7 linked regions of the Homo sapiens genome follow. The protein of the gene in region 3 interacts with the protein of the main gene of each other region in a biochemical or structural test. Each region holds a gene or a part of one and is shown on either strand. Other genes may lie near its edges. The genes, in order: RIMS2, GRID2IP, ABCC4, SYNPO2L, PPP1R9A, PATJ and PALS1.

Evidence for each region.
Region 1: the proteins of ABCC4 (region 3) and RIMS2 interact in a test that uses a peptide from one of them, tested with the Homo sapiens proteins (one large-scale study listed by IntAct).
Region 2: the proteins of ABCC4 (region 3) and GRID2IP interact in a test that uses a peptide from one of them, tested with the Homo sapiens proteins (one large-scale study listed by IntAct).
Region 4: the proteins of ABCC4 (region 3) and SYNPO2L interact in a test that uses a peptide from one of them, tested with the Homo sapiens proteins (one large-scale study listed by IntAct).
Region 5: the proteins of ABCC4 (region 3) and PPP1R9A interact in a test that uses a peptide from one of them, tested with the Homo sapiens proteins (one large-scale study listed by IntAct).
Region 6: the proteins of ABCC4 (region 3) and PATJ interact in a test that uses a peptide from one of them, tested with the Homo sapiens proteins (one large-scale study listed by IntAct).
Region 7: the proteins of ABCC4 (region 3) and PALS1 interact in a test that uses a peptide from one of them, tested with the Homo sapiens proteins (one large-scale study listed by IntAct).

Annotation. Positions count from the first base shown.
Region 1 is NC_000008.11:103,507,110-103,510,609, forward strand, and holds part of RIMS2 (regulating synaptic membrane exocytosis protein 2), read left to right. Parts: intron 1-3,500. UniProt on the Homo sapiens protein: Rab effector involved in exocytosis. May act as scaffold protein. Plays a role in dendrite formation by melanocytes.
Region 2 is NC_000007.14:6,509,962-6,513,461, forward strand, and holds part of GRID2IP (delphilin), read right to left. Parts: intron 1,079-3,500; coding exon 947-1,078; intron 746-946; coding exon 648-745; intron 440-647; coding exon 322-439; intron 192-321; exon of another isoform or gene 55-191; intron 1-54.
Region 3 is NC_000013.11:95,067,452-95,070,951, forward strand, and holds part of ABCC4 (ATP-binding cassette sub-family C member 4), read right to left. Parts: intron 1-3,500. UniProt on the Homo sapiens protein: ATP-dependent transporter of the ATP-binding cassette (ABC) family that actively extrudes physiological compounds and xenobiotics from cells.
Region 4 is NC_000010.11:73,649,530-73,653,029, forward strand, and holds part of SYNPO2L (synaptopodin 2-like protein), read right to left. Parts: intron 1,512-3,500; exon of another isoform or gene 1,479-1,511; coding exon of another isoform or gene 1,379-1,478; intron 1-1,378. UniProt on the Homo sapiens protein: Actin-associated protein that may play a role in modulating actin-based shape.
Region 5 is NC_000007.14:95,271,094-95,274,593, reverse strand, and holds part of PPP1R9A (neurabin-1), read right to left. Parts: intron 696-3,500; coding exon 608-695; intron 510-607; coding exon 426-509; intron 1-425. UniProt on the Homo sapiens protein: Binds to actin filaments (F-actin) and shows cross-linking activity. Binds along the sides of the F-actin. May be involved in neurite formation. Inhibits protein phosphatase 1-alpha activity.
Region 6 is NC_000001.11:62,161,448-62,164,415, reverse strand, and holds the end of PATJ (inaD-like protein), read right to left. Parts: 3' UTR 501-2,968; downstream 1-500.
Region 7 is NC_000014.9:67,247,935-67,251,434, reverse strand, and holds part of PALS1 (protein PALS1), read right to left. Parts: intron 1-3,500. UniProt on the Homo sapiens protein: Plays a role in tight junction biogenesis and in the establishment of cell polarity in epithelial cells.

The sequences.
Region 1 (3,500 bases), on a different chromosome or scaffold from region 3:
ATTGAGCTTAGAATGCTGATCTTCACATCGCCCCTCAAATACACTTAAGCTTTGTATGATTGCCGGTTTCTCATCCTTCTGGCTTAGCTTCAAATTTGGATCTTTAGAGAGCTCTTTTCTGACCACTCTTTCTTATGTAGATTCTCTCCATTATTCTTTATAACAATACCTTTTATATTTCCCCAATTATGCTTATCAAAATTTATAATGATTTATTTACTTGTTTATGGTCTGTCCACTCTGCTAGATTATCAACTCAAAGAGAGCACACACCATGTCTGTTTTGTTCACTAATGCAGCTTCAACTTCTAATGTAATACAATGCCTTACACATAGTAGTACTCAAAAATATTAATCGGGTGAATGAACGCACATTGGGAATGAAATATTATGTTCATCTAGGTGGTACAAACTTTCAAGGTGAACTCCAATAATCTTAAAAAAAGATTTGCTTATGTAGTAGTGTCCTTATTTTTGAAATCAAATGTAATTTTTAAACATGCCTAATTTTGCTTATTTTACATGGAAGGAAACTTACAGTGTTTGTGTATGATTGCAGCTTATCTTTCTTTTGGACTAAGAGCATATCTTTTTTGACTAGAAACTAGAAGAACATTGTGATAGATATCATTTTTAAATTTAAGGAATATTAGGAATTAGGGAAAATTTGGCTGTAAAAGTGATCCTTTAAGAGAATTGATACATTTCCATTGTGTTTAGCACAGATGAGTGATAAAGAGTACACAGAAGGCTTTGGATAGAAATAGTTCATGCCCTCCAGGGACAGATAATCTAAGGCCAACCATAATCATATGAACACATAAAAATGTAAAGTGTCATGAAAAAATACTGTAAAGGTGTTTTTAGTACATTATAACCATGGTAAAAAATATGTCAGACTAATCTTACTAGTAGTTTATTGCCTCTATGGTATTGTTTGATTATATTGTGTTATATTACATGGTGTCACATAGTTTTTCCTGTTAAAATATCTGAAAGTTTCACTGCTAGATATTAAAAACTTTTGTATTCTCTAGTCACCTAATGAAATACAGATATCTCTGGGAGTTGAAATAATTTTAACCATTATCAGGTAATTCTTAAGGAGCTCATTGTAAGAAACGTGATAAACCACATGAAAATTTTGCATGGTAAGTACCAGGAGACTACTGTGCACTACAGTGTATCATGGATATATTTTACAAGAGGAGCACGTGATTCAGTCCTGGGAAGATGCCATCTAGGCTGAATCTCAAATGATGAGTAGATGTTAGCTGGGCAGATTGTTCTCTAAGCAAAAATCTTAAAACTCCCAATTCCTCTTTGCCCCCAAAACCTTTCATTTGTTAAAAAAAAAAAAAAAAAAGAAGACGATGCAGGACATGGTCAAGAAGTTTGCTTGAAGTGGTTCAGAAGAGCACAGATTTAAATGGTGATGCGTCAATAGAGGAGACTGGAGAGATGGCAAGGTTCAGAGCCTAAAAAGCCTTCTATGCTATTCTTTGGATTTGGCAATAGGGAGTCATGGAGGGATTTTAAGCAGTGACACAATATAATTAGACTTCTGTTGGAACAAAAACCACTCTCATTTAATAGATTGGTTAGAAGGTGTAATACTAGAGATAAAGGCACTATTTAGGAGATTCTTACAGTAATCCAGGTAATAAATGATGAAGACATGAAATAAGGCAGTAGAGGTGGAGGTGGAGAGTCAAGACAAATTTTTGAAAAATTGAGGAGCCAAAATTGCCAGGATTTGACAGCTGTGTGTTAAGGGTCAGGTAAACTCTTATGATGCCAGACTTGCGTAACTGACTACTGTACATAATATATATCTGCCTGTATCTGCTTATCTCACTTATAGTTAGCTCTGTGAAGTCATCTGGTCCTAGGACCAGTGTTCTCTTGAGGGAGCAGTTGTGAAGTGGCTTATTTTATTGTTTTAGTTATTCTAGAGAGTTTGTAGCATTAATATGAGTAATAGAAGTGACTATAACTTGGTATAATGGGATGGTAGTAAAAAGGACCAAAAGGGACAAAGAAGAAAAGAAAGGACAAAGAACAAAGGGGAGAAAGTAAGATTAGGGCTCTTGGAATCCATTCATAATTAGAAGGAACCCTTCTTAATAGCTTATAAAATTTTTTCTACTGGGTATATTCACACCATGTAATCTTTTCAGAACTTCAGGACTATCATCCTTTTACTGAATATTCCCTACTCCCATTGATAACTTAGTCTCAATGAATTTCTCACCCTCTGGTTTTATTTCATTCTTTGTGTATTTTAAACTATCACACAATCTTTGTTTTATATGTTAGGCTTAGCAAGGACAAATTTCCTTCCCTGTATATATTTCTGTATCACCTCTAAGGGAATTTTGGAAATATGAGTGTATTTTAGGAAAATATAGAGAGGAGATTAGTTATGGAAATGACATGTGGAAGTTGGTGAAGATTCTGTGCATCTTTATATTAGCTTACTGAATTATTGCAGAATTTCAGAAAGTGCTTGTATTATAAAAGGGAGATAAATTTTATTGGGTTTTGTGATGGGAAGCTCCAGAAATAGGAATTGAGGTAGAGTTATGGAAAGGGGAAAGTTAAGAAAAGGTTTACACAGGAGTAATATATTATTTTACCTACTTTCTTTCTAATACGGGTAACCTACAAAATTGAAGACAACTAGATAGTATAAATTAATTGGTCAAGAACTAACAACTTTAATACAGTTTATATATTATGAACACATATCTATATTATATATACCTGTCAAAACTCTTACTTTTTGTACAATATAGTGCTAGCTAAATGCTTTTTAAGGCATTTGGAATTAACAACTTTTGTATAGTTACATGGTTATAAACATTTAGTATTTTTATATAATACAAATACTTTGATAGGTTCTGCTAAACAGAGGAACTGGATAAATGCTCCTTTAAGGCACAGGAGGAATGCCCTTTAGCATTTTTTTCTTCCAATCAAGCTTATGTTCAGCTCGAAGAGACAAATAGTTTGGTAGTTTCTTGTATCCTGTAACTAGGCTTCTGGGAGGCTAAAACTAGGGGAAAAGGATACACTAAACAATATAACTGGGTAGCAGAATAACCACAATGGTGTTTGGTGCTTTGGTATTGTTCAGTTGACAGATGGAGGTGGTGCTCACATTCATCTTGTTTTGTTGGCATATTTGGTATCTGTTATCATTTTTATAATAGTTTGCTTCCCAGGCACATAGATGAAAATCTGTTTTATCACACATAAAACAGTCTTCAATCTGAAAGAATTAATTAATACTTCTATTAGCACACTTATTTTTCTCACTGGGCCAAAATCTAGGTGTAGGTAGGGCCGCATTTCTTTCTAGAAACTAAAGGAGGATTGTTTCCTTGCTCATTTGGGTTGTTGAAAGAATTACGTTCTTTAAGTTATAGGACCGAGATTCTTGTTGGCTATTCAGCTGAGGGCTGTTCTTACCTCCTAGAGGCCTCTTTCTGGTACTT
Region 2 (3,500 bases), on a different chromosome or scaffold from region 3:
GGGACTACAGGCATATGCAACCATGCCCAGCTAATTTTGTATTTTTTTTGTTAGAGATGGGGCCTCACTATGTTGCCAGGCTGGTCTCAAACTCCTGGGCTCCATTGATCCTCCTGCCTCGGCCTCCCAAAGTGCTGGGATTACAGGCACGACCCACGGTACCCAGGCTACTTTCTTGATCCACAGCTGAGGTGAGGGTCACAGGGCCATGGGAGGGACTGGGACAACCCTGACCCTGATGGAGCAGAGAAGCAGCTCCAGGGCTGAGCCTGGGGTGGAGGGAAACACCCAGACAGTAGATGACAGAGGCTGGAGCCCTACCTGTGGTGACTGCTGGGCTGGGGCCTGGAGGGGAAGCCCGGGATTTGGACACGGTCCCCATCTTCCCTTTGAAGCTGCTGTTCAGTCGAGACTCAAGCTCTGCATAGACGGCTGACATCTGGAGGGAGACGGGGGAGAGTCCAGCCCATTCTGCTTCCCCTCGTAGCCCTAATGTGGTCCAGGCCTGGGTGGGCCGGGAGGCAGGGATATGCCCCAGCCTGAAGCAGCACAGGGACGCCTTGGCCTGGGTCTCCTGGGCCCAGTCCTATGGACCGTCCATTCCCTGCCCCCTACTGACCCCACGTGGAGGGCAGAGAAGGTCTCACCATCTTGGGGTTGGGGGTCTCAGGGAGGGACGTGCCGTCGCCTGCCTGGCGCTCGCCTGGGATCAGGGGAAGAGGCATCTCAGGGCACTCGCTGGGACCTACCGGGGAATAATGTCATTACCGTATCTGAGCTCTACGGCTCAGGCCCCGGCCCAGAACCAACATGCCCCGCAGACCCAGGAGGGCCAATCCTGAGCCCTGCTTAGCCCCATTCCCTGGGATTCCCCACCTCACCAAGCCCATTTTGCAGGTGGGAAAACTGAGCTCCATTCATACCCTCCCCCTGACACCAGCCTTACCGCAGCTGAGGCCGGCCTCCAGGCCCTGGGACCGGAGGCTGCGGCGGCACATGGAGGAAGCCCGCAGGGAGCTCCGCGGCTGGGGCTCAGGCGTGGGCTCGGACTCCAGGTCCAGCTCAGGCTCCGGCTCTGCTGTGGGACATGCAGGGAACATGGGGCCCTCTTGCCCTCTCAGCCAGACAAGGGACCTCCAAAACAGGGAGGGGAGGGCAGATGTCATCTGCACCAATATGCAGACCCCAAGCTACGGGGCCTGCCCTGCTTGCCTCCAGAACAGCTCTTGAGGGGAAGCCCCAGGGCAAGAAACCAGGTGCCAGGAGCAGCACCAGAATGCAGCACCAGAATGCAGCTAGCCTGAACTCAGGGGCCTAGCAGAGATCTCATGACAACAGCTTCCAGAGTCTCAACGCCCTGTGCTTGCCCCAGGCCAAGTCACTGCTGCCCAGAGAGGATTATGGGCAAAATAGAAGTGTTTTTTTTTTGAGACTGAGTTTTGCTCTTGTTGCCCAGGTGGGAGTGCAGTGGTGCAATCTCAGCTCACTGCAACCTCCACCTCCCAGGTTCAAGCGATTCTCCTGCCTCAGCCTCCCAAGTAGCTGGGATTACAGGTGTCCGTCACCATGCCTGGCTAATTTTTGTATTTTTAGTAGAGATATGGTTTCAACATGTGGGCTAGGCTGGTCTCAAGTTCCTGACCTCAGGTGATCCGCCTGCCTCGGCCTCCCAAAGTGCTGGGATTACAGGTGTGAGCCACTGCTCCCGGCCAAAATAGAAGTTTTTTGAGCCTACGCAGATATGTAAGGCATGTGTGGTCCAGCATGGATCCTGAGCTTCTCGCTAAAACCCTAGCAAATTGTGGGTCCCTGGGACTGCAGCTCATGGGCACACAAGGACCAGCAACTCTGCAGCGGCCCCTTCCCTTTCCTTCCTTTCCTTTCCTTCCTTCTCTTCCTTCTCTCACTTTCTCTCTTTCTCTCTTTTCTCTCTCTCTGTCTCTTTCTCTCTTTCTCTCTTTATTTATTCAGAGTCTGGCTTTCTCATCCAGGTTGGAGTGCAGTGGCACAATCTCAGCTCACTGCAACCTCCACCTCCCAGGTTCAAATGATTCTCGAGCCTCAGCTTCCCAAGTAGCTGGGACCACAGGCATGCACCACCATGCCTGGCTAAATTTTTGTATTTTTTTTTTTTAAGCAGAGATGGGGTTTCACCATATTGGACAGGCTGGTCTTCAACTCCTAACCTCAGGTGATCCACCTGCCTCAGCCTCTGAAAGTGCTGGGATTACAGATGTGAGCCACCACACCTGCCTTTTTTTCTTTTCTTCTTTTTTTTTTTTTTTTTTGTGACAGGTCTCACTCTGTCCCCCAGGCTGGAGTGCAATCAAGGCTCAGTGCAGCCTTGAATCCCAGGCTCAACAGATCCTCCTGCCTGAGCCTCCCCTGCAGCTGGGATTACAGGTGTGTGCCACCACACCCAGCTAATTTCAAATTTTTTTGCTATGTTGCCCAGGCTGGTCTCCAACTCCTGAGCTCAAGTGCTCCTCCCACCTCATCCTCCCAAGTAGCTGGGACTACAGGTGCATACCACCACGCCTGGCTAATTTTTTATTTTTTTTTTCTTTGAGATGGAGTCTCACCGTGTTGCCCAGGTTGGAGTGTAGTGGTGCGATCTCAGCTCACTGCAACCTCCGTCTCCCAGGTTCAAGCAATTCTCCTGCCTCAGCCTCCCGAGTAGTTGGAATTACAACTGCGTACCACCACACCTGGCTTATTTTTGTATTTTTAGTACAGATGAGGTTTCCCCATGTTGGCCAGGCTTGTCTCGAACTCCTGACCTCACGTGATTGGCCTGCCTCAGCTCCACAAAGTGCTGGGATTACAGACGTGAGTCACCGCGCACGGCCACCCCTGGCTGATTTTTAAATATTTTGAATATATGGGGGTCTTGTTGTGTTGCCCAAGCTGGACTTGGAACTCCTGACCTCAAGTGATCCACCCACCTCAGCCTACCAAAGTGCTGGGATTACAAGAGTGAACCACTGCACCTGCAGCGGCTTTCATAGCAGGTGCAGGATGCCTAGAACAGGGTAGAACACAGGCTTCGGCACACCTTCCATCCACATGACCTGCATGCTGAGTGCAGGGGTTTGTGGGCATTCGGAGGGCACGCTGAACAGACAGGTGGCAGCCACACATGGCACTGCAGGCCTGTGTGTGTGCAAGAAAGAGTACACTGGGAGCCCACCAGCCAGGTGGGATGTGGTCGTGTGCTCATGATCCTGGTGGTGGTGTTGGCATGTCTGGCAACCACGTGAGTTTCTTTCTTTTTTCTTTTTTTCTTTCCTTTTTTTTTTTCTGGAGGCAGTAGCTTGATCATAGCTCACTGCAGCCTTGATCTCCTGCACTCAAGCCATCTTCCCACCTCAGCCTCCTAAGTAGCCGGGACTACAGGTGTGCATCACACCTGGCTAAATTAAAACTTTTTTTTTTTTTGGTAGAGACAGGCTCTTGCTATGTTGCCCAGGCTAATCTTGAGCTCCTGAGCTCAAGTGATG
Region 3 (3,500 bases):
AAATCACAGATTATTAGTCATCCAAAATTGCTTACCGGAGAGCAACGGCTTTAATGCAGGGGCAGGAGTGGGGGTGGTTCTTGTCCCAGTGCAATTTTAATCAAAAGGGTGGGGTGGGCCTGACAGTCTGCATTTCTAACATGTTTCCAAGCAGAGGCAGGTGATGCTGATCCCAGCCCCTGAGATGAGCAAGCAGGCAGGGCAAGTGGGACAATCTGGCTGTGAGAGGAGGGGTTTCTCAGCAAACATTAATGTAAAAAAGGAGAGAATATAAGAAACTAATATTTTTGCACACTATAGCAAGGTCTAGTACACATCTGTAAAAAGGTATTATCCAAGTAATAGCTTTGAGCAAGGAAAAAAAAATAACAAACCAAAATCAATCTACCTCTAGAGCTGAAAAATGCTTTAAAATGGCCCAGTACTCTCTAAAATGATTAAATCAACCACAAAACCATCTAAATGAAAAATGCAGCCAGTGTTTGGAATCTAACCAGGAAGGCTAGGGTGGTATATACCTCATTTTGGTTCATTCTTTTTTACTTGCTATTTCTTCTGTGAATTAGAAACCTACTTAGCGCCTATTACTTTTTCCTATTTGTTATAATGTCCAGGAAATCTGAGCAGATGAAGCAATTGAAAGAGAATGAAGCCCTGTTTCTGCTGTGTGGACACATTCCTACATCTCCACTGGAAACAATGCCCCTCTCCATCAGCTCCAACAGCAAAGGGACTGCCTGAGATCCTGGGGCTGCAGGCAGGTGTGGAGGAGACGAACCCTGAATATACACACAAAAAGTGGAACCAACTCACCACGATGTTGCCTGAATACACAAATGAAGCTAAAGGTGACACTGTGAGTGAACCAGGACACAAATCAAAAGCCAAGTGGGGCTCAGCGCAGTGGCTCATGCCTGTAATCCCAGCACTTTGGGAGGTCGAGGCAGGTGGATTGCTTGAGGTCGGGGTTCAAGACCAGCCTGACCAACATGGTGAAACCCCGGATCCACTAAATATACAAAAATTAGCCAGGCATGGCAGCGGGTGCCTGTAATTGCAGCTACTCGGGAGGCTGAGGCAGGAGAATCGCTTGAACCTGAGAGGCAGAATGAGCCAAGATTGCGCCACTGCACTCCAGCCTAGATGACACAGCGAGACTCTGTCTCAAAAGCCAAGTGGTTGTAGCTATAATTCAGTCTTCAAATTCAATTTACCCTCCCACATTTCAGATCTCAGGTAATCCTATGATTTGGGGGGGTTTTAAGATGGAACGATATCAATGTGGGGATATAGGTTGTTTTCTAATGTGTACAACAGAGGTTTGTAGATAATTCATATTTTATGGCTACAAGAGAAATTTACAACGTGGCCAAACTAACAGAATGATGTTGATCAGGTAGGACCTAATAACACATTGTCTGAGAGTAAGCAAACATCCCCCTGGCCCCATCAGGAACAGAATCTGAGAAACCTTGCTTTCAGCAAGAGCTACAGCTGATGCTGCCTGCAGAGTGGTCTCCACCTTCTTCACACTCACAAGGATGCTGGGTAGATAATGAGGAATCAGCTTTTGCTGGTTCCCTGGGTATCTTCTGGGCATGAAGCTGTATATTTATTTTTCATGGCACAAGGGTATCATTCATTCAATTGTGACTATAGCCCATTAAATGGGTCTGTGGTGGGAAGAGCTGAAAAGAGCAGTTCCGAAAGTATCTAACACTGACACCCAGAGAACGGGCTGTTGCGGGAGCTGTCGTGTGTGTTTTGTTACCGATTTCTTTGTATGTGCATATCCCTCACTCTCACAGGCACCCACCATGTGCCCTGCAGCATGCCATTTTCTGGGGGTACAGAGACGAATATAAAATGCTCCCTGACTTTAAGAGGCTCAGGGTACTGTGAGATGCTGACCCAGAATTATAAATCATGCCATCGTGCTATCTTCTTTAAAAAAAAATTGTGGTAAAATACACAAAAGGTACTTTATGTACTTTTCAAATTGTGGTAAAGTAACATAAAATTGATCATTGTAATCACTTGAAAATGTTCAGTTCAATTATATTAAATACATTCATGTTGTTGGGCAACCGTCACCATCATCCATCTCTAAAACTCCATTTATCTTGTAAAACTGAAACTCTGTACCCATTAAACACTAATGCCCATTCCCCTACCCCTGCCGCCCACCATCCTACTTTCTGTCTCCATGACTAACTACTCCAGGTACCCACATGTAAGTGGAACCTTATAGCACCGTCCTTAGGTGTCTGGCCTAATTCACTCAGCATAATGTCCTCAGGGCTCATCCATGTCAGAATCACACATGTCAGCATGTGTCAGAATCACCTTCTTTTTAAGTCTGGATAATATTCCATTATGCGTGCGTATCACATTTTGTTTTTCCATTCCTCAGTCAATGGACACTTGGGCTGCTTCCACCTACTGCTCACTGCAAATAATGCTGTTATGAACACGGGTGGGCCACAGATGTTACATTAAAGAATCTGGCCAGGCATGGTGGCTCATGCCTGTAATCCCAGGCATGATTTGGGAGGTTAAGGTGGGCGGATCACTTTAGCTCAGGAGTTCGAGACCAGCCATGGCCAACATGGCAAAACCTGGTCTCTACTAAAAATTCAAAAATGAGTTGGGTATGGTGGTGCACACCTATAATCCCAGCTACGGGGGAGGTTGAAGCAGGAAAATCGCTTGAACCTGGGAGGTGGAGGTTGCAGTGTGCCGGGAATGTGACATTGCACTCCAGCCTGGGCGACAGAGCAAGACTCTGTCTCGAAAAAAGAATCTATAAGATGATGTGGAGAATATAGTTTCAAAGAGGCAGAGATGCTTGAACTGACTGAAAAGGGTGCACACTAAGAGCAAGGCAGACAGGTGCTTGGGGAGAAGGAGGGCACCCTGAGTGCAGGGGATGTGTGTCCATATTGGGAGTTGTGAGGAGAGGGGTGGGAAGGGGAAGAGATTCTACTGTCTTGTTTGTTCTGGTTTAGTTCCTTCAAGAGGCTGTCCTAGTCCTAGCCAAGGGCCCCAGGACACATGTGAAAGGGACATTGCTGGCAGACTTAGATACCTGCAAAACCAGCTCACAAAACTCCACACAGCCTCCCAAGTCCCTCCTTGTTTTCCTTTCACTGACTTTGAGTGAGTCTCTGGTGCCTTTACTGCCTCCAGCTTGGGGGTCTGATTTCTGAGCACTGATGGGGTCATGGGATCTGGGTCTTCCCTTGGGGGCTGAGAGCCAGACAGGTCCTGTCAGGGTGGGCCTGGGGCTCATTAAGGTTGCAGCAGCTGCTCACCCAGGCAAGGAGCTGGCCACGTAAGGATCAGATCTGTGATCAAACTGTTTCAGAAAGAAAGAGTTTGCAGTGAAAGGGATGGGGAGGGAAAGCAAAGCACAGGTTAAAGGAAGGCAAGAAAGACTAAGGAAAGGGCCTGATAATGTTTGGCTGTGTCCCCACCCAAATCTCATCTTAAATTCCCAC
Region 4 (3,500 bases), on a different chromosome or scaffold from region 3:
AACTGTAGGCGTACTTTCTCCTATTTACTTTTCTCTCTCATTCACATATACCCCAGCTTACATACAGCTCCATTCACATACACTTATGTAAATACACATGTGTGCACATCAAAACACCATCACTCAAATACATTCACACACCTACATGCTCTAGGTGGCCCTTCTTCCCAGAGACCTCCCTGCAGAGACCCTGTTACTAACAGTTTAGACAGAAGTTAAAGTTGATCTCGGCCTTCCAACTGCCAGGGCAGTCCTCTGGGCTTCACACCCCTGCTACTCACAGTCAGGGGTAGTCTCCATCCAAGATGCAGGAAAAGTTAGAGTGTTGTTCTCCAAGGCAACACTCCAAATCTTTAGGATACCTCAAGGTCGCCAGCTAAATATATTATTTACCCCAAGCTGGGGATGGTAGTGGGGTGGGCTTCTTCAGGGGTCAGAACTGTCTCTACGTAGAGAGCTCAGGCAGCCACTGCCAGCCAGGCACACAAAGACTATGTGCTAAAGGGAACCAGGGCAGGGCTTTCCATGCCATGTGGGGCCTGGGTAGGTGGGGCCAGGAAATGGGAGGGCTACCCTGCTGCGAGGACCCCGCCTTGCACATGGATACTCTCTGGTCCATGGTCCCCAGTTCCTCCTGAAAAATTATTGAGATTCCATCTACTTTCCACTCAAGGTACCATGCTCCTTTGTAATGAGCTCCTTTGTAATGAGCTTTGTAATGAGCTCCTTTGTAATGAGCGTGGTATCTTGAGTGGAAAGTAGATGGAACTTTTTCATTTTTGTCATTCCTCTCATCCCAGTGTTTATACCACAGAATAGTGGTATGGATGAGACAACAGGCCCTAGAGTCAGAGTTCAGTTCAGGTTTTTGGTTTCTGGGATAGTTACCTCACCTCATTAAAGTTCGGTTTCCTCATCTGTAAATGAGGGTAGACAATGGCTACCTCATAGGATTGCTATAAGGATTAACTGAGATAATATAGTAAATTTAGCACTTAACACAGTGTGAAGGCCCACTATAACCATTACTATTGAAGTCTTCTTGACACTATACTTTCTTGATATATATGGATACTTTCTTGTTCACACATATCTTCTCCCATGACTCACACATACATGCCTTCATGTATTCATAATGTACTCACACACGCTCTGTTCCCATGAGTTTTCTACAGCTCTTGTGGTCAGAAACCCCTTTGACATGTGACCACAGCATCACTGAGAAAGGGGCAGTGAAACTCTCCTGAGAAAAGGAGGAAGAGGACAGCAAAAAGGAACAAGAGAGTAAGACCTTTCCCAAAGACTACCCTTCCTAAACTATTGACATCTTCCCCTCCATTCTAGACCCCAGACTCTCATAGATATGGGAGGGTAGTACCTGCATAGAACGAGTCTTGGAGCTCAGGAACTGGGTCTGGGGCTTTGTCATAGCTGGCTTGGCTGAGGGGCTCTTGGCTGATGGGCTCAAAGGTCTCCATGCTGAGAAAGGCGGTGTTGGCTGGAGCAGGACCAGCTTGAGCCACCCCCCACGCCTTTTAAAGCCCCTTTGTCTTGTCCCCAGAGCTGGCAGCTGAATGAGCTCACTGTGCTATTTTTGGAGCCTGGCCCTCTCCCTTCTCTGGGCTGCCCCACAAGTGCCGGTGTGATGGATGTGGGCACCTGCCTTCCCTTCCCCCAACCCCACCCCAGTAGACAATGAGGTCTGCTTGACTAAAAATATCTCTGAGCCAGTAGCTACAGTCTCATCCAGCATTATGGGAAGGGAGGGGGAGATAAGTGGAGAATTGAGGAAAGCATAGGATCCTAGGCACGCATCTGGAATTCCTGGGATATTGGACACTCAGGGATGTCAGACTCTCAACTCTCATGTCCTTAGCCTCCACTCCAAACTGAGAGACACAAAGTTCTATAGATCAGGAATCAAAATGGTGGAGGAGAGGGAAGAAATATAACTAGAGGGGGAATCATGAGATTTTGGAGGTAACAAGAACGGTCTCTGTGGGAAAGCACGGGAGGCATAGAGCAGGGAGAACGTTTACCCTTAGACCTTGTTCTGTAGCTCACATCAAAAATAGCAAAGCCTGAGATAAGTGGAATGGGCTTTTTCTGCCCAGGCCAACATTCTTGCCTGAGATAAGGAGCCAAAGCTCCCTCCCTCTGCCACTTCCTCGGGATCTCATGATCATCCCATAGCCTCTCAGTCCCCAGGAATCCGAACTGAACTTGCAAATGTCAAAGGTGCCTGCTATTAATACTATAAAGAATCCTTTGGCCAATGGCTCACGCCTGCAATCCCAGCACTTTGGGAGGCCGAGGCGGGTGGATCACAAGGTCAGGAGTTCGAGACCAGCCTGGCCAACATAGTGAAACGCCGTCTCTACTAAAAATACAAAAAATTAGCCAGGTGTAGTGGCGGGCACCTGTAATCCCAGCTACTCGGGAGGCTGAGGCAGGAGAATTGCTTGAACCCAGGAGGTGGAGGGTGCAGTGAACCAAGATTGCACTCCAGCCCGGGTGACAGTGCAAGACTCTATCTCAAAAAAAAAAAAAAAAAAAAAAAACCAGAAAAAAAAAAGAACCCCTGTAGCTTTGACCCACTTTTATTTATTAATTTTTATTATTTATTTATTTATTTATTTTTAAGACAGGGTCTTGGTCTGTTGCTCACGCTGGAGTGCAGTGGCGCAAACATGGCTCACTGCAGCCCAAACCTCTCAGGCTCAAGCAATCCTCTTGCCTCAGCCTCCCAAGTAGCTGGGACCATAGACATGTGCCACAGTGTTTGGCTAATTTTAAAATTTTTACTGGAGACGAAGTCTCACGATGTTGTCCAGGCTGGTCTCAAACTCCTGGCTTCTGCCGGGCATGGTGGCTCACGCCTGTAATCCCAGCACTTTGGGAGGCCGAGGTAGGCATATCACCTGAGGTCAGGAGTTCGAGACCAGCCTGACCAGTATGGTGAAACCCCATCTCTACTAAAAATACAAAAAATTAGCCAGGTGTGGTGGCGGGTGCCTATAATCCCAGCTACTCGGGAGGCAGAGGCTGGAGAATCGCTTGAACCCGGGAGGCGGAGGTTGCAATGAGCCAAGATCACGCCATTGCATTCCAGCCTAGGCACAAGAGCCAAACTCCATCTCAAAAAAACAAAAAACAAAACAAAACAAAAATCCTGCGTTCATGCTATCCTCCCACCTCAGCCTCCCAAAGTGCTTGGATTACAGGTATGAGCCACCTTGCCCCGCCTTCAACCTGCTTTTAAATACTCCCCTGTCCTGTGTCTGTACTCTGCTTTCACCCAATCATGACACACAATAACAATTATCACCACCACCAAACCCTTCATCTATTTGTGTCCCTTTCCAATTTCCCTACTTACCCTGTTCCTGGGTTGAACTGAATCACCTTACCCTTTTGCCACATTGGTTCAAACAGCAAAAATAATGGTGGCCATGAGAATAATTATGCTCCCCTTCTACTCATTACCCCTCCTGTCCCCA
Region 5 (3,500 bases), on a different chromosome or scaffold from region 3:
TGGACAAGACAATCTTGAATGTCAACAAGGTACTTAAATGCAAAATGATTATCCTTTTAGACTTAATACAATGCACTAGCATTGTGGGTAGCCAGGCAAAAAATCTGAAGTATCACATAAATATATTTGATATTTCTGAAGTATCACATAGATATATTTGTGCTGAATTTAGATAAACACTTATTGAAATGGTTCATGTGGCCATAATTCTGCAATTAAGAACCAATGGATATGCCCAAGGCTAGATGGAGGCTATAATTGGAGTAAGACCAATATAAACTAATTGTGCAATTTTTCTTCCATCTCAATTCTTGGCATATCACTTTAGCTCAAAGATACTGACCACTGATTTTGGTTAACAATAGAAGAGGGGGCCAGAAAGTTTAGGTATAGAAATACACGTGTTCTTAATCACACAACCGTACCTGCTACCTGCAGAAAACCTACTGGCTTCTTTTTCTTTTTCTTTCCACTTCTTTCCCTTGCTGGAATTCCTTCGCAAAGGCGCCCTGTAATGATAGTAAGCAGTCAGAAAGGGGAAGCTGAAATTTTCTCTTTCAATCCTCCTTTTACAGAGGGCTTTCTTTTTACATCGTGAAGTGCTTACCCCAGATCCACAAACTTCCGCTTAATTTTTCCTCCTTGCACCGCCAATGAACTGGATGCCCTTAGTGATTTGGGATCTTTGGCATCATCTAGGATATACACATTTGTGAAAAAGATCAATTATTATTATTTTTAAAGTCACAATTCAAAAGTCAATGCATCTCTGAATCTAAGGGCTTTGCCTAAATTCCTAATTGTAAAATAAATAATCAATGCCTTCTTATACGACCTAGGAGACACAGTTACATTGAGGAACTCGCAGTTAAGCAGGGGAGGTCCTCTATAGGACAGAGGCTCAACATTCATCACAAAGAGTTTTAGCTTCAACTGCATGGGAATGAACAAGGGAGAATAAATACTCTCAAATCATCCTCTGCATTCGAAGTAGGGACCAACATGACTTTTGTTCCTTCTCTGGCTCCAAATTCTTGGCTTCAAGTGCCTGGGCTCTGTCCTCCATTCCTTTCTTGCCTTGGGGTTGTAGTGCCTTCTAACAGGAACATAGCCCACTTCTCCCGTATCTCCAAAGCCCAGCGCAGAATATCACCTCTGAGAGTCTGGGAGATTTAGGGGGAAAGTCAGAGTCAAAGTTTTCTTCTCTGGCTCTCCTTTGCTAATGGCCTGTGGCCGGTCCTGGAACAGAGGAGGGGAGGACATGGGGGAGACTCCTTAAACAGGGGCTCAGCTACAAAACATTTATATCTTTGAAAGGGCCTTCTTAATAGTTAGGTTACAGCAAAACTTGGCTGGTTCCCCTTAATGTGGAAGATGCCAAAATCTCCTCAGTGTTCAGAGCAGACTGATCTTTGCCTCTAGGACTCTCAAAGGTAGCAGCTGCTGGGGAATGGGGACCCTCGAAATGATACCAAAAGCCAATAGGAAGACAGGCTTTGCAAATGGAGTTCAATGTCAAGGTGGGAACCAATTCCACTGGTGGCACTTGTTCCATCTCGGACAGGCTCTACCCAAACTATTCAGCAGAGGGTACTGATCGGCATCACGTTTCAGCATATCCAATTAGCTCAGATGATTAACAAATGCTGTTTTAAATTTGATGTTTTTTATGTGTGAAACTCTTCCTCCCCAGTTCTTTTTTGGTATCTGTTTTTCTGTCTCTTATCTTTTAAAATGTGTTTTAAATTTCTAGGAACTTTCTAGTATGGAAGGCAAAGAGAATGGCCCTCTTAAAAAAGTGTTCAATTAACTTTGCAGGTTAATGTTGCTCATGATTTTTGTTTACTTCAAGAGAAATTTCTCAACACACATCGACATACACCTTTAAAAAACATGAAGTACACACACAGTTCATGGATAGCAGTCTAGGTTCAAAGCTCTCAAGCAGCACAGGACACTGACAAATACTCCAAATGTTTTTAGCAATGAGCTTTTCATATTTTTAGTTAATGATACTTAGATTACAATAAGCAACTCACTGAAATGTACATAATGAAACACAAGAGTCAGAAATATGTCTGTGTCAAAAATCCACTTCAAGCCTCAAATATTTATTATGCATATTTGCATCATTACTCTTTGGGTAACTGAATTGTCACAGATGTGACACAATCATATAAAAAAATCCATAGACATAGACATGGCACAAACACCTTCTAAGGTGATTTTACTAATGGATTTTATTTTTAAAAGCAAGATTTAAATTTTCTTAATAGAAGCTGAAGAAAAGAAAGTGCCAAATTCTTCCAGATCAATCCTAAAGCAACTCTTAATGGCTAGGACTATGCAAAGTTAAAAGGAGACTGCCTAATTATTTCCTGAATGAGAGGTAGCTGGGAGATGTTACAATGAGCGCTGAGAAGACCAGCTGAGGCAATGTACACGAAAACACTCTGTAACCCATGAGTGTTGCAGTTATTTGGACATCATGCGACTAAAAGCCTGATTCTGCCTATCACAGAGCTTGGTGCTAGGCAACCTTACATCTTTATCTCACACATTTGCCAAAGTGCGTTCCCAGGAACACTGAAATGAATGCTTCCATAGGGCTGAAGATGTTAAGAATAAGGAATAATGTACTTTCCCATTTAAAATCGATTAAATCCATCTTTAATGCACACTAGAACTTCTAGTCTGCATAAAATCCAACATTAGATTGGTATGATTTCAGGAAAAAAGAAACATACATTTTGTTTATTTAGCTCTACGTAAGACTTCTGTTAGGCTTTTTAAAATCTCTCCAATACTACCTTTGTGACCAATTATACATCTGAGCCCCCAGATTGGGTGCCTCAACTTTAAGCTGTGGCAACCTGGTTTTCATTTTCAAATAATAAATGATCTCCTGATGGCCAAATCCTAAGGTCTTGTACTGGACTGCATCTCCTTAATCTCACTGTAATAAGATACTTGACTATCTCTTCCTTTATAATGGGGACTCCCAAATCTACCTGGCAGTCCTGACCTCTCTCTTGCGCTCATGACCTCCTCTGTTAAAAAAATGAGTTAATCCTATTTCCCCCATCATGTTGCTGATTTCCTATTTTCTGTTAATGACAAGACCATATGTTCTGAGGCGTGAAGCCCATGATAGTTTTGCCTCACTTTCTTACCTGTTACCTAGTCAAGGTATGTCTCAAGGGTCCTTGAATCATTCTTTCCTGTCACTGTCTACTGCTCCTCTTTAGAGGGCACCACCTCATAGGGTCTCCTAACTCAGCTTCTCCATACCTGGTGGTGTCTTTTCCTTTTTATTCCTCTGGTCAAACTTCTTGTGGTTTCCTAGTAATATGGCAAGTTATCTAAGATGTTTAACTTCTAAAGCTATATACTTAACCTACTGGCTCACTTTTGTGTGTAACTACTCCACCCTGCATAAGCAAACTGCTACAGCCAGGCTGGGATAGCCTTGTACCTTTAAATCATATGATATGTGCCTG
Region 6 (2,968 bases), on a different chromosome or scaffold from region 3:
ACTCACACAGAGTCCACGAGTAGAGGAGAAAGAGATTCACGTTCAGGGAGGCCAGCCAAGTTGGCTAGAACATGTAGTGTCTGGAAAGGAGGGAGCTGTAGGTTGACAGAGCCATGGAGATCGCCTCTTTGTCAAATACTCACCTGCACATGCATGAAAGGGCCAGGAAAGAAACATTAGAGGTTGGCTGGGCATGGCGGCATGGATCCTGAGCCACTGCGCCCATCCTAATTTTTGTATTTTTAGTAGAGACAGGGTTTTGCCATGTTGGCCAGGCTGGTCTTGAACTCCTGACCTAGGTGATCCATCTGCCTCGGCCTCCTAACGTGTTGGGATTACAGGCGTGAGCCACCATGGATTCCAGATTTTAACAGGACACCAAAAAACCTTGTGAAAAGTTGGACTTTTTTTTTTTTTCTATTAGGGAAGAAAATGCTGAAGAAAAAGCACAATTAGATCCAGAAAGTACACTTTTTCATATATAATAAAACTCCATTTGCTCTGTAGGCAACTACATTTATTTAGAATCTTTGGAAATATCTTACACATACAAACATTCAGCAGTTTTATTCTTCCTGGCTTACTTCCCTCTCATGCTAATTCCGATTAGTGATATCATTACTATACTGAAATGGCCCAAATGATGAGGCCAAATATAAGAGCACTACTTCTTTCACAAATTTCCATCTTCATAGCCTCTCAGCTTGTCAGTAAGTTCTGAGGCAAAAATATCTTTTTGGAAAGGCAATTACGTATTAGTCATGTGAGCGGAGACAGAACCGATTATGACAAGTACTAGTTCTATCAATTTAGTGCAGTAAGAAGTATAAAGCATCATAATTCCTTCATCAATATACTTTTACTAGCACGACCTAAAAGGATAATGTATAAAGAAACACCACAACAATGTATTATCTCAAAATGTGTATTTAATGGCCATTCCATCAAAATAAAGCAGAATCCCATTTCAAAACTATTATATGTATATATATTTTTAAGGTGCATTTTCAAGTTTTATTTGGGTTTCATTTCTTCTTGGCTTGCCTGAGGTGTTCTTGCAGGTACAATTAACACAAAATGTTCTGAGGGTAGTAGCTTTTCATGCACTGAAGAATGAGATCCTAACAACATTGCACATCTTGGATACATTAGAAATTTTAAAAGCCATGTGTAATTTCAGAAAACTTAATACCGTCATGAAAGACATTTTCAACACAAAATTTAGGCACTCTATACTTTGGAATAGCCATAAAATATTCCAACAAGAGTTAATGCACTTTGTGATTACATCTACTCAAAGATAATTCTCAATTAAAATCTATACTTATTAAATAACATTTTAAATTAGAGCCCATTAAATTTTGATAATTACTGTGAAATATTTGCAGCATTGTGTTGTAGTTAAATAATGCTGAACTACTTCTATTACTGACTCTAGTACTCATCCTTCATGGTTTTTTTTCTTTTTCGAGACAGAGTCTTGCTCTGTCACCCAGGCTGGAGTGGAGTGGCACGAACTTGGCTCACTGCAACCTCCACCTCCCAGGTTCAAGCAATTTTCCTGCTTCAACCTCCGGAGTAGCTGGGATTACAGGCGCCTGCCACTGCACCCAGCTAATTTTTGTATTTTTAGTAGAGACAGGGTTTCACCATATTGGCCAGGCTGGTCTCGAACTCCTGACCTCATGATTCGCCTGCCCTGGCCTCCCAAAGTGCTGGGATTACAGGCGTGAGCCACTGCACCCGGCCATGGTACTTTTAAAAACAGAGGACTCTATAGCATCCACCAGTAAGCATCTCTCCCTTTTTCTTGCTAATATATGAATAAGATTGCCAATAATCAACTTAAAGGTATTCTTGTATTTTCTGCTGTAGTTGATTTCTTAGCATGCAAAACTTCAGCAAATGGGAGTCTCCTTGGAGATCAGGAAACATCAGCCATGCATTTTCATCACATATTCCTAGGCTCAATTCATTTGCTCACTTTGCAGCTAAGTATGTTGCTCCCTTAGGTTCTTGCAGTCCATGCTGCTGGCCTGACTACTATGGAGGTAAAGGGAAATATAATCAAATATGTCACCCACTTTGCATAAGGCCAAGGCCACCTAGACCTTGTCTGACTTGAGACAAAACTTGCTGATCTCTGCCGTGTGGTTCTGGGGCTTCTACCTCCTTTTCCTAAGACCGAGGGGTGGGAATGATGCCTGCCAACTGAAATGCCATTAATTCCAGGTGATCTTCCTGGACTTGAATGTAATTTAGCACTGTTAGAATTCAGAACATGTATGCTAGTTGTTCCTGCTGAGAATAAGGTTCATTTGCTCAGTGGTATGCATTTATATGGCACAGAAAACAATTAGTCTTTCAGAATTTTTAGAAGATTACAGTCTGTAAATTGACTCATCAAAATCACCAATGACTAGCATATAAAGATCTATCCAGAGAAATGAATTTGAGACTTATTTGACCATAAGTCATACAGAAGACAGCACAGTAATTTCCCATAGGAGAATCTGGTATTTCATCTTGGGGATCACTGGTAAATTAATTACACTGCTAATGTTTTCTTGCTTACTTGAAGAGACAATTAGCATAAGTAAATCATGAGTGAGATGACAAGTTGCTTAACATTTGTTTCTGTCCATTGGATGAGATCTGAGGTTGCTGTTAAGCCTCGGTGTGAGTAGGGGATAGGGAGAGAAGAGTATAAGGAAAGAGAAGTTAACTCCAGTTTTGGTAAATATAATCAGAACCAGTTGGTTAAAATCAGAATACTGGGCTGGGCGCAGTGGCTCACGCCTGGAATCCCAGCACTTTGGGAGGCCAAGGCAGGCAGATCACCTGAGGTCAGAAGTTCAAGACCAGCCTGGCCCACATGGGGAAGCTCCATCTCTACTAAAAAAACAAAAATAAACCCAGTGTGGTGATGCATGCCTGTAATCCCAGCTACTCGGGAGGCTGAGGCAGG
Region 7 (3,500 bases), on a different chromosome or scaffold from region 3:
TAGCCTCCTGAGTAGCTGGGACCACAGGCACACACCACCAAGTCCAGCTAATTTTCGTATTTTTTGTAGAGACAGGGTCCCACTGTGTTGCCCAGGTTGGTCTCAAACTCCTGGGCTCAAGCGGTCCTCCTGCCTCGGCCTCCAAAATACTGGGATTTCAGGCATGAGCCACTGCGCCAGCCTCACGTACATTTTTAAACACTAGGTAAAGTGGAAAATGGCTTTCATCAAAAAGTTTCTAATCTTACCAAAAAGACAATGTTAAAATAAGTCTTAAGGCAGGCTATATTACAGACAAAGCAGAAAAGCCAAGGGCTTTGGGATCAAATAAAATTAATTCAACTCCTTTCTATCACTTATAATAGGACTATGGAAAAAATATTTAATCTCTCTGAGCCTCAATTTCCTCATTTGTAAAAAGAAGAATGCTGACAAAGAACTTGAAATGTAGTTGTTAATATTTAAGAAATACATACAAAGGATACAGCATACAGCATAACACATTAAGAGACACAGCGAGGGATACAATTCTGGATAAGAGGGGAAAGCAGAAAGTATTGTGATTTGGTCAAATGAACTATCAATCTTGCTATAAATTTTAAGTATAAAAGGATAAGGTATAAAAAACAGAAGGATAAGATTCCTTTAGGATGCCTACAAAAACTATGAAATTTATTTTCGTTAACTCTAAGTATGTACTGATTACCCTTATGCAAATCATTATTGTGAAAAACATTTGCAGGTCATTTATACAGTCGATGAATCACCTGGATCAGAGACCTGTATCTGGGGTTCATGACTTTATTTCCATGAATCCCTGCATATTGTATGAACAGTGTGTGTGTTTCAGAGGAAGGGCCCAGATGACTATCAGAATCACAAAACAATCTGTTTAACTAGAATTTTTTGTTTAATATTAGACAGTTAAATCTGCATGTCCAGTACACATAAACTGGAGTTTATACAGTTTTCAATGTGAGGCAATGTGATTTCCAATACTAAGACAGAAGAACCACTGTTTAACACATAACTTATTTTCTTCCAGATTTTTTTGGTCAGTAAATATTTGAGTGTCTAGTACTTCTGAGCATAAATGAACATCAAACAGTAGTCACAGCTCTCGATAATTTACAGATGAGTTACAAAAAAGAATAAATTGTTAATGCATACTTTACTAAAATTTTAAGAACTAAAACTTATTGCCAGTAGGAGGGTATGGAACGTTCCTGGAGGAAGGAAGAGTGGGTGGCTGAATTTTAAATGAAATTATGAACACAGCCTCTTGGAGAAGGGTTACTTTCGTCTATCTACATCAATGGTTTTCAAGTTGTAGGATGTGACCCATTTGTGTGCCATAAAATCGCTCTAGTGAATCTCAACCAGCTTCATAAAAAACAAAATAGAACAGCTTTATCTTGATAGAAACTCAGAAAAAAAGACTTTCCGAAGCGTTACTTACATTTCAAACATAACACAAAAATGAGTATCTAAATATGGATACTCTAAGTACAACCAAGTCCTAGCAGAGCACCTAGCTCACTACATTCATAGGAAGCAATCACGTTAAACGAATGCAGTCTTAAAGGCACTTCTAAAACACACAAGCAAAATACAGATTGCCTACTTCTTACATCAAAACAAAATAATGTATTTTAAGTTACATTCTCAAACCTTTTCTGTGACAATGTAAAACTCTCAAAATATAATGTTTTCACACAAAATCCTCAACTTTTTGTGTGAAGTTTCTCAAATTGTGAAGCCAATTATGATTTATATCAAAAAAGCATAACTCAAAAGATAACTATAGACACATAATTAAAATTTCTAATATTTGAACTTATTAGATATACTACAAACTGTAAAAACCTGACTCTCCTTAATTATTTCACATCTGTTGGTTTGTGACAAAGCACTGTGCAGTCTTGAAACAAAAAGTGAATAAGTGAATATTTATTAAGTATCTGCTATGTGTCAGATATTTTGCTAGGTGCTTTCCATATCTCAGCTTGAATTTTTCAATCATCTTTCAAGGTGGCTACATGTCATAGGTGAGAAAAGTGAGGCTTGGCCTAGAATTACAGCATGAAATAAATACCCCAAGCTTCCTTTTACTACATTACTACAATTACTGTCATTTCTCCTGCTGATTTTTTGCCTTAAAACATTGGTATGAGGCCAAGCATGGTGGCCCACGCCTGTAATCCCAGCACTTTGGGAGGCCGAGACGTGCAAATCACCTGAGGTCAGGAGTTCAAGACCAGCCTGGCCAATATGGTGAAGCCCCATCTCCACAAAAATACAAAAATTAGCCAGGCATGATGGCGGGTGCCTGTAATCCCAGCTACTCGGGAGGCTGAGGAGGGAAAATAACTTGAACCCGGGAGGCAGAGGTTGCAGTGAGCTGAGATCATGCCATTGCACTCCAGCCTGGGGGACAGAGTGAGACTTGGTCTCAAAAAAAAAAATTGGTATGTAGGCCAGGCGTGGTGGCTCATGCCTGTAATCCCAGCACTTTAGGAGGCCAACTTGGGAGGATCACTTGGGTCATGGAGTTCGAGACCAGCCTGAGCAACACAGTGAGACCCCATCTCTATCTCAAAAAAATAAAATAAAAATGTTGGTATGTAAACTAAGTCCAGAGGTCAAATCAGGCACACCTTATTTTTATAAGTAAAGTTTTATTGGAAAAGTCATGCTCATTTGTTTGGCTACCTCTGCCACTCTAACAACAGAACTGAGTACTTGCAACAGAGACAATATGGCCCACGAAGCTAAAATACTTACCGAAAGTTGTTGACCCCTGCCTTAAAGAAGCAAAATGCCAAGAACCCTGGAGGCCTCAAAATTTCAACGTCTTTGAGGGTGTTTGAGACTATTAACTGAAGAAGAAACTATAAAATTATATGAGACAGAAAGCCAAATGTTTTAATTTTTATAATGTTATATCATAATCAAGAAAATTTAAGTCCTACTAAAATGTAAAATGTAGGTAGGTAACTGTTAATGAATACCTTGACTCTACTGACTTCATTAAGTATTTTAGTTCACAAAATCTTATATTTGGTTTCCTTTTTTTTTTAAGAAAAGAGATCTTGTTATGTTGCTCAGCTGGACTCAAACTCCTGGGCTCAAGCGACCCTCCCACCTCAGCCTCCCAATTGGCTGGGGCTACAGGCATGTGACATTGCTCCTTCATTTTTAAGAATAAATGTTAATGTATATTAGTTTTTAAAAATCCAAAATGATTTTTGTTTAAAATAACCCCAGAGTTAGTCCCAGAAACATGCAAATATGGTTCAACATTTGAAAAATCAGTGTAATTCACCATATTAACAGATTAAAGAAAAAAGTTCACACAATCATCTCAATACATGCAGAAAAGGCATATGATAAAATTCAACATCTATTCATGATTTAAAAAACAAACCCTCAGTAACCTAGGAACAGAAGAAAACCTCCTTAACCTCCTTAACAGAATGCACAAAATGACCTACAGCTAA